Homo sapiens: one gene and its partner. The protein of the gene in region 1 interacts with the protein of each later gene in a pairwise test. Each region holds a gene or a part of one and is shown on either strand. Other genes may lie near its edges. The genes, in order: BCAT1 and C17orf75.

Region 1 (3,822 bases):
AGGAAAATGGGCAAAAGCAAAGAGCACTTTATTTCTAAAGAAAAAAAAATTACATCTACTAGATGGGTGATACTTCATAAAATAATTTAGTCTCTGCTCACTTGCAAAGTAGAGAAACATACTTTCAGAGATGTGATGGGTCACCTAAGGTAGAAATGAGTCAGTCATAAGCATCTGAGTAAAGCTCATGAAGTCAGAATTTGTCTATTTAAATATTGACCTGTAACAGCAATAATAATGTAGTAATGTTATAGAAATTGGGACTGCCAATCATATAGGTGAACCCTGTAGCACCTGCCTCAGCCCCTGGTATTGCTGTCTAGAGACAGAATTCAGTGAGAAGAGAACTTGACCAGGAATAAAAACACCTGGATCTAATTTCTTGCCCTGTCCTTTTGCTCTTTGTGACTTCAGACAAGTCATTTAATCTCTCTGGACTCAAGTTTTCTTCTCTGTACAAAGGCACTAATAAACTGTACAACAAATAATCTTCTTAGCAACGCCTTACTGCTGTGATTACACAGATAAGGAATGTGAAACTACATAACACAGTTTGGTAGCAAAATTGATGTCTAACAAATATTACTTCCCTTTCCTTCCAGCCCCATTTTAAAGACTTTTCCCCAGTGATCTAGCTGTAATGAGAAGAAGAGCGAAACTATGCCCTAGTCCAAAGAATTTACCTTAATTTCCCCTCTGCTACTATATTATGGCCTCCAAAGGAGATGGGTGAAATGCGGGTTACAAAAATAGGCAGAGGAATGAAGAACACTTGGATTTAGCCGTCCTCAGGCTTCCTGAATGCATAGGTTGGGCTAAATCCCTGAAGCTGGGCACGGTGGCTCATGCCTGTAATCCCAGAACTTTGGGAGGCTGAGGCAGGCAGATCACTTGAGGCCAGAAGTTCAAGTCCAGCCTGGCTAACATGGTGAAATCATGTCTCCACTAAAAATAATTTTTAAAAAAATTAAGCTGGGCATGGCTGCGTGCACTTGTAATCCCAGATACTAAGGAGGCTGAGGCACAAGAATCACTTGAACCCCGGAGGTGGAGGTTGTAGTGAGCCAAGATTGTGCCACTGCACTATAGCTTGGGTGACAGAGTGAGACTCTCTCTCAAAAAAAAAATCTAACCCATCTTACAATGATTTCTGCTCCATAAGAAACATTGTGACAGCCACGATTCAATGGCCATGAGAAACCATTTTGATATCTTTTTATCTCAAAACATTACTTAAGATAAAATATCAAAATAATTAAGTTACTATATCTTGCTAGCATCTAAAGCAATTAGGCAAAATATCCGCAAAATACCTGTGCTGCACACCATATTTTCCATTTTCAATATTAATTTCATGTGGTCTTCAAATATTATTTTAGGTTGAGATACATTTTTCTTCCTTACTCTTTCATCTCTCACTTGCATATGAATCCCCCACAGACACTGATTTTAAAAAATTGTGGAATTGCCAAATGATATTATTTTCTTGGGTTTTTTGTTTTTTGTTTTTTTTTTTTACAGAGTCTCACTTTGCGGCTTAGGCTGGAGGGCAGTGATGTGATTATCTTGGCTCACTGCAGCCTCCACCTGCCAGGTTCAAGCAATTCTCATGCCTCAGCCACACCGATGGGACCACAGGCATGTGCCACCAAACCCGGCTAATTTTTGTATTTTTTGCAGAGATGGTGTTTCACCATGTTGGCCAGGCTTGTCTCCAATTCCTGGTTTCAAGTGATCCACCCACCTCAGTCTCCCAGAGTGCTGGGATTATAGGAGTGAACCACCGTGCCCGGCCATTTTCTTGTATTTTTACCTAACTAAAGTAGATCAGAAATAATGTTAATGTTCATATGGTTTGTACTGAATATTTATCTAACTATTCAGAAATTATTTATTTGGTGGTCAACACCGTGACCCGTTACATTAAAAGAAACACAAAAGAAACTCCTACACTTACATACCGGCAGAGTTGCCCTCACAGCAGAGCGATACATTCTATCCATGTTGAGGTTTGGCTGAAACAGTCGAATTTTATTATCTACTCCTCGAAATGCCTTCAATCCTTCAAATAACTGGAGATCAAAGAGAAAAAATCTTAGAGGGTAACCAAAAGAAAACAACCCGTGTTCAAGAGACTGACTTTCCTATGGGCGTTCATCTTATTCATCCCATAAAGCTGTTGACATTGACCTCAACTTGAGATCATTAAATCCAGGAAAGCTAACAGTTGACAGGACTGGTAAAAACAATGGTTGAGGTGGAGGAAAGTTATTTTATTATCAGAATTTGGTAGGAATTCCGAGTTCTCCTCTGCTTAGCAGGAGCCACACTGCTGAATAACACATTTAGGTGTTATTTAAGGGAGCAGGAAGAAAACATCTAGAATCACACAGCACAGGTTAATTCCCTAGGCAATGGAGATCGAAACCAAAGGCCTTGTGGCACCGTGGCCCCCAAAGAGTACCCCCATATCCTTTCATGTAATCTGGTTCATTTGAATGCTGGATAGTAGATAATCCAGATGTGACCAGAGCTGGTTCAGTCCCTAAATCACAGAAACCAGGCAGCTCAAGACCATACTATGTTAAGCCACGTCACCTCCCTCAATCAAAGTGCTGTCCTGAACAAACCACTGATCAGGGATTTGAAAAGACTTCAGTAGATACATACTGATAAATACAGAGAAAGACAAAAATCAATAATTTTAGTGGGAAAATTTAACACAGCTTCTCTAAGTAATTTATAGAACAAACAGGCTAAACCTTAGTAAAGATATGCAAGATATGAACAACAGGAAGAACAAACTTCCCTAACTGATACAGAGAACTCTTACACAGACCAGCTGTAGAATTCACATATTTTCCAAACACAAGATAAGCCAGAAATCAATACCAAAAGTTTGACTGGACACCATCCATATTTTGGAAAATAAATCCACCACTAACTAAACCATAGGTCACAGAAGAAAAATGGAAATTAGAAAATAAGTTAAACTGAACGATAATGAAAAGTAAGGCCTTTAAAGATGTATACCCTAAAAACTTACATGGGAAAAAAAGAAATACAAATCATGTATAATTAAAAAGCATAAAATTAGATGTTGTATTTAAGTGCAAATATATTATTAGTTTATTAAATATAACAGTACTAAAGCTTCGGTTAAAATATAAGTTTGTTAGATTGGACTCAGCTGACAATATCTGAATCAAAAAGACAGAAAAAGATATATCATGCAAATACTTTATTTTTTATTATTTATTTTTTTTTTTTGAGACAGAGTTGTTTTTCTCTGTCACCCAGGCTGAATGAAGTTCAGTGGCAAGATCTTGGCTCACTGCAACCTCTACCCCCTGGGTTCAAGCAATCCTCCCACCTCAGCCTCCAGAGTAGCTGGGACTACAGGCGCGCACCACCACGCCCAAGTTAATTTTTTGTATTTTTTGTAGAGACGAGGTTTTGCCATGTTGCCTAGGCTGGTCTCGAACTCCTGGGCTCAAGTGATGTGCCTGCCTCGGCCTCCCAAAGTGCTGGGATTACAGGCATGAGCCACTGCACCTGGCCTGCAAATACTTTCTAAAATAAAACTGGCAAGCTTCCATTACTATTTATAAAACAAAAGAATTTAAGCCAAGAAGCACTACTGAAGATAAAAAAGGCAACTTCAAGGCTGGGTGTGATGGCTCACGTCTGTAATCCCAACACGTTGGGAGGCCAAGGCTGTTGGATCACTTGAGGTCAGGAGTTCGAGACCAGCCTGGACAACATGGTGAAACCCATCTCTACCAAAAATATAAAAATGAGCCAGGCATGGTAGCATGTGCC
Region 2 (3,822 bases), on another chromosome or scaffold:
TCTTCCTGAATTGTTTGCTTTTCATATTAAATATTTCCAAAATTTAAATTGCAGTATGCTTTGCCCTTGGTAGAAGAAGAAAATCTCCTTTTTTTTCTTGTTTCGCTCTTGTTGCCCAGGCTGAAGCGCAATGGCTTGATCTCGGTTCACCACAAACTCTGCCTCCTGGGTTCAAGTGATTCTCCTGCCTCAGCCTCCCAAGTACCTGGGACTACAGGTGTGTGCCACCACACCAGGCTAATTTTGTATTTTCAGTAGAGACGGGGTTTCACCATGTTGGTCAGGCTGGTCTCGAACTTCTGACCTCAAGTGATCCACCCGCCTCAGCCTCCCAAAGTGTTGGAATTACAGGCGTGAGCCACCACGCGCAGCCAAAAATCTCTTATACAAAATAAAAATACTTTAAAATAATCTACCTAGCATGGTGGCTCATGTCTGTAATCCCAACACTTTGGGAGCCCCAGGCAAAAGGATTGCCTAAGGGCCGGTAGTTTGAGACTAGCCTGGGCAACACAGCAAGACCCCGTCTCTACAAAAAATAAAAATAATTAGCTGAGTGTGGTGGTGCACACCTGTAGTTCCAGCTACTCAGGAGGCTGAGACAGGAAGACTGCTTGAACCCAGGAGGTTAAGGCTGCAGTAAGCCATGATTGCACCACTGCACTCTAGCCTGAGTGACAGAGTAAGATTCTGTCTCTTAAAACAAACAAACAAAACTAAATAAGGTGACAACACGTCCCCATCAGAATTTTTTTTTTTTAGACAGAGTCTCACTCTGTCACCTAGGTCGGAGTGCAGTGGCACAATCTGGGCTCACTGCAACCTCTGCCTCCTGGGTTCAAGCAATTTTCGTGCCTCAGCCACCTGACATAGCCAGGATTACAGGCATGCGCCACCAGGCCCAGCTAATTTTTATAATTTTAGTAGAGAAAGGGTTTTGCCATGTTGGCCAGGCTGGTCTTGAACTCCTGGCCTCAAGCAATCCACCTGCCATGGTCTCCCAAAGTGCTGGGATTACAGGGGTGAGCCACTGCGCCCAGCCCCCATCAGAATTTTGAAAACTTAGCCACTGAACCAGTTTTTTTGTGCTTTCCAACTAAGTTAAGTCACAAATTGTAAGACTGATGTTCCTTAAATATAAGCAAGCATTCAACCCAATTTATTAGAAATGATATGTATACAGAAGCTGCCAAAAAATAAAGTAAATGTCTTCTGATAATTCCAGTTTTGAGAACATCCTAATTAACAGACATCACAGCTATAAAGCAATTTGTTACTCTGTCACTGGTACTAATTAAAATTCAGACAAAAATTTCATGTGGCACTTGGCACACAGCCAACTAATTACCTTTAGTTTAAAGTTCTCCAGTACTTGTCGGAAAAGAAAAGGGTTACCTCCTTTGGCACCATTTAAAAAAGCTTGCATCCAATCCTCACAAAACCGGTTACTTCCTATAAAACATTTCAGAGAGACTAAATAAAATGAAATTTTACAAAGCTTTATTTATTTATTTATTTGAGACGGGAGATTCGCTCTTGTTGCCCGGCTGGAGTGCAGCCGGAGTACTAACTATATCGTTAGTAGAGATGGGGTTTCACCATATTGGCCAGGCTGGTCTCAAACTCCTGACCTCAGATGATCCACCTGCCTCAGCCTCCCAAAGTGCTGGGATTACATGTGTGAGCCACTGCGCCTGACCCATTTATTTCTTTATAAAAACACCTATAATGAATTATTTAAGACATGTATAATGGCCTAAAAAAACAGTGTGCTCACCACATGGCTAAGGAATACCAAAATGGCTGAAGCCCCCTGTATGCCCCTTCCCAATCACATCCCCCTTCCTTTCCCATCAGAGAGGATAATCATTCCCACAGACGTCTTTAAACTTTTCCCATATACCTTTGCACGTGTAAGCCTTATCTACATTATTCTGCATATGTTAAAACTTTTATGTATTTTTTCTTTTATGGCTATTTCACTAAATAGTATGTTTGAGAGCTATATTGACACAAGTAGCTCTAGTTCATTCTTTTTCACTGCTCTGTTATATTCCATTGCATGAATATAGCAGCTTATCAGTTTTCTTGTTGATAAACACTTAAATTGCTTCCAATTCCTTGCTTTTTCAAGTAATGCCTTTATGGACATTTTAAAATTCATCTCCTTGTGTACACATACTAGAATTTCTTTATGTACCTAGGTGTGGAATTGCTAGGCATGGCATGATTTCCATGTTTCTAGAATTATATTGTTTTCACCAAGTGGTTTCTCATGGTTTGAGATAACCATGTAAAACTGCACAAGGCAGGAAGAATAAGGTTGTATCATAGGCTCTCAGTGCAAAGATGGGGACTCGCAAGAGATGTAGGAAGGCTGCTTCAGAGGTTGTAGCTCACCTGCATTGCAGAACTGAGGCTGGGAGCTGCTGCAATCGATGACCACAGACTTATGCTGCTCCTCTGTCATGGCCATGCACAAAGAAGTCATGGTGCCTTCATGAATAAGTCCTTGAAGACTGGCCACACTCAGAAACCTGCCACACACACAAGTCCATTTCCACAAACAATATTGCAGGACGGAAGGATGAAAACAAATTTATTTTGCACTGGGCTGGTGGGGAAGGGATGGAAGGAGCAGTTTACAAACACAGATGTCAATCTTGCTGTGGAAAAGCTTTTCTCTTTGAAAAAACTGTTCTTTACCTGTTAATGTCTCTCTTTGTTTTTTCATCTGATTCTTTAACTTCAACAGGAGTGTAACTCAAAGCCTATGAGAGAAAAATAAAGCCTGATTGGTACATATATTCCAGTTTTTCTTGAGCAGCTACTCATGACTAAATGTCCCCATAAGTCCCTACCACACTGGACAACAATTGATGGGCACTGGTCACAAGCTCTCCAGAGCCTTGTTCAGCCACTGCTCATTAACATTTTATAGAATCAAAATTGCTCTGGATTTTTGTTTTCCTTTTCAAATTGTTTTGGAAACTATACCTTTCCCAGATCACTTGGAAAAGTAATTATTTTAAAATGTTTTATCCTATTAGGAAGACTCAGCATTTGAAATTCAACTCTACCTTAGTAATATCACTTTCTAGATCTGAGAAAATAAAGTGTGGTCTATCTTGATAGCAAGCATAGTTTGAATATTTGGGGAGGGATGGGAGTCATGTTCAGAGAAAATGAGTATGTTTCTAAATCATCCAAAGTGATTCTCAGTTAAGGAAATGCTCTCATTTGGCAGTACTTACAGCATGTAGCAGAAAGGTAAGCTTTTCCTGAAAGAGAAGAACAACCCTTTGGATTGGGCATACAACATCCTCAAACCAGCTGCTCAGATAGGATTTTATGTGACTCTCCAGGCCCCTTGCCTAAATCAAGAAAGAACATCATTTGCTTTAATATAAGCCTTTCCTTTAGTGGACTTCATATTTTCTTCATCATATCCTTGATGGTGAAAAAGACCAGGATAGACACCTCCCTTTTTAAAGCTAACACCACCAATTCAAAAAAAGAAATTGTGATATACCTTTCCTGGCTTGTTGGGCAGGGTGAGGGTTAAATCTGTACTGAATTTATTTAAAACACACCAAGAAATGCATTCTATAAAATGAAGAGACTGAATAGGGTTCCATGCTATTTCTTCACAGGGAAGAGTTGGGCACTCACAAGTCCCTCTCCTCCCACTGTACTGTGCACTCAATGGAGATACTCACTCAATAATCCTCATTTCCCTGGCACCTGTGGTACAGTGTCTAAAACATGCATAGTATGAGCTTATTAAGTGCCTTTTGAATTAGTCATGTAGATAGAGAATTC

Evidence for each region.
Region 2: the proteins of BCAT1 (region 1) and C17orf75 interact in a two-hybrid assay, tested with the Homo sapiens proteins (one large-scale study listed by BioGRID).

The regions. Positions count from the first base shown.
Region 1 is NC_000012.12:24,879,340-24,883,161, forward strand, and holds part of BCAT1 (branched-chain-amino-acid aminotransferase, cytosolic), read right to left. Parts: intron 2,073-3,822; coding exon 1,962-2,072; intron 1-1,961.
Region 2 is NC_000017.11:32,332,069-32,335,890, forward strand, and holds part of C17orf75 (protein Njmu-R1), read right to left. Parts: intron 3,375-3,822; coding exon 3,255-3,374; intron 2,772-3,254; coding exon 2,707-2,771; intron 2,538-2,706; coding exon 2,401-2,537; intron 1,453-2,400; coding exon 1,349-1,452; intron 1-1,348. UniProt on the Homo sapiens protein: As component of the WDR11 complex acts together with TBC1D23 to facilitate the golgin-mediated capture of vesicles generated using AP-1. May have a role in spermatogenesis.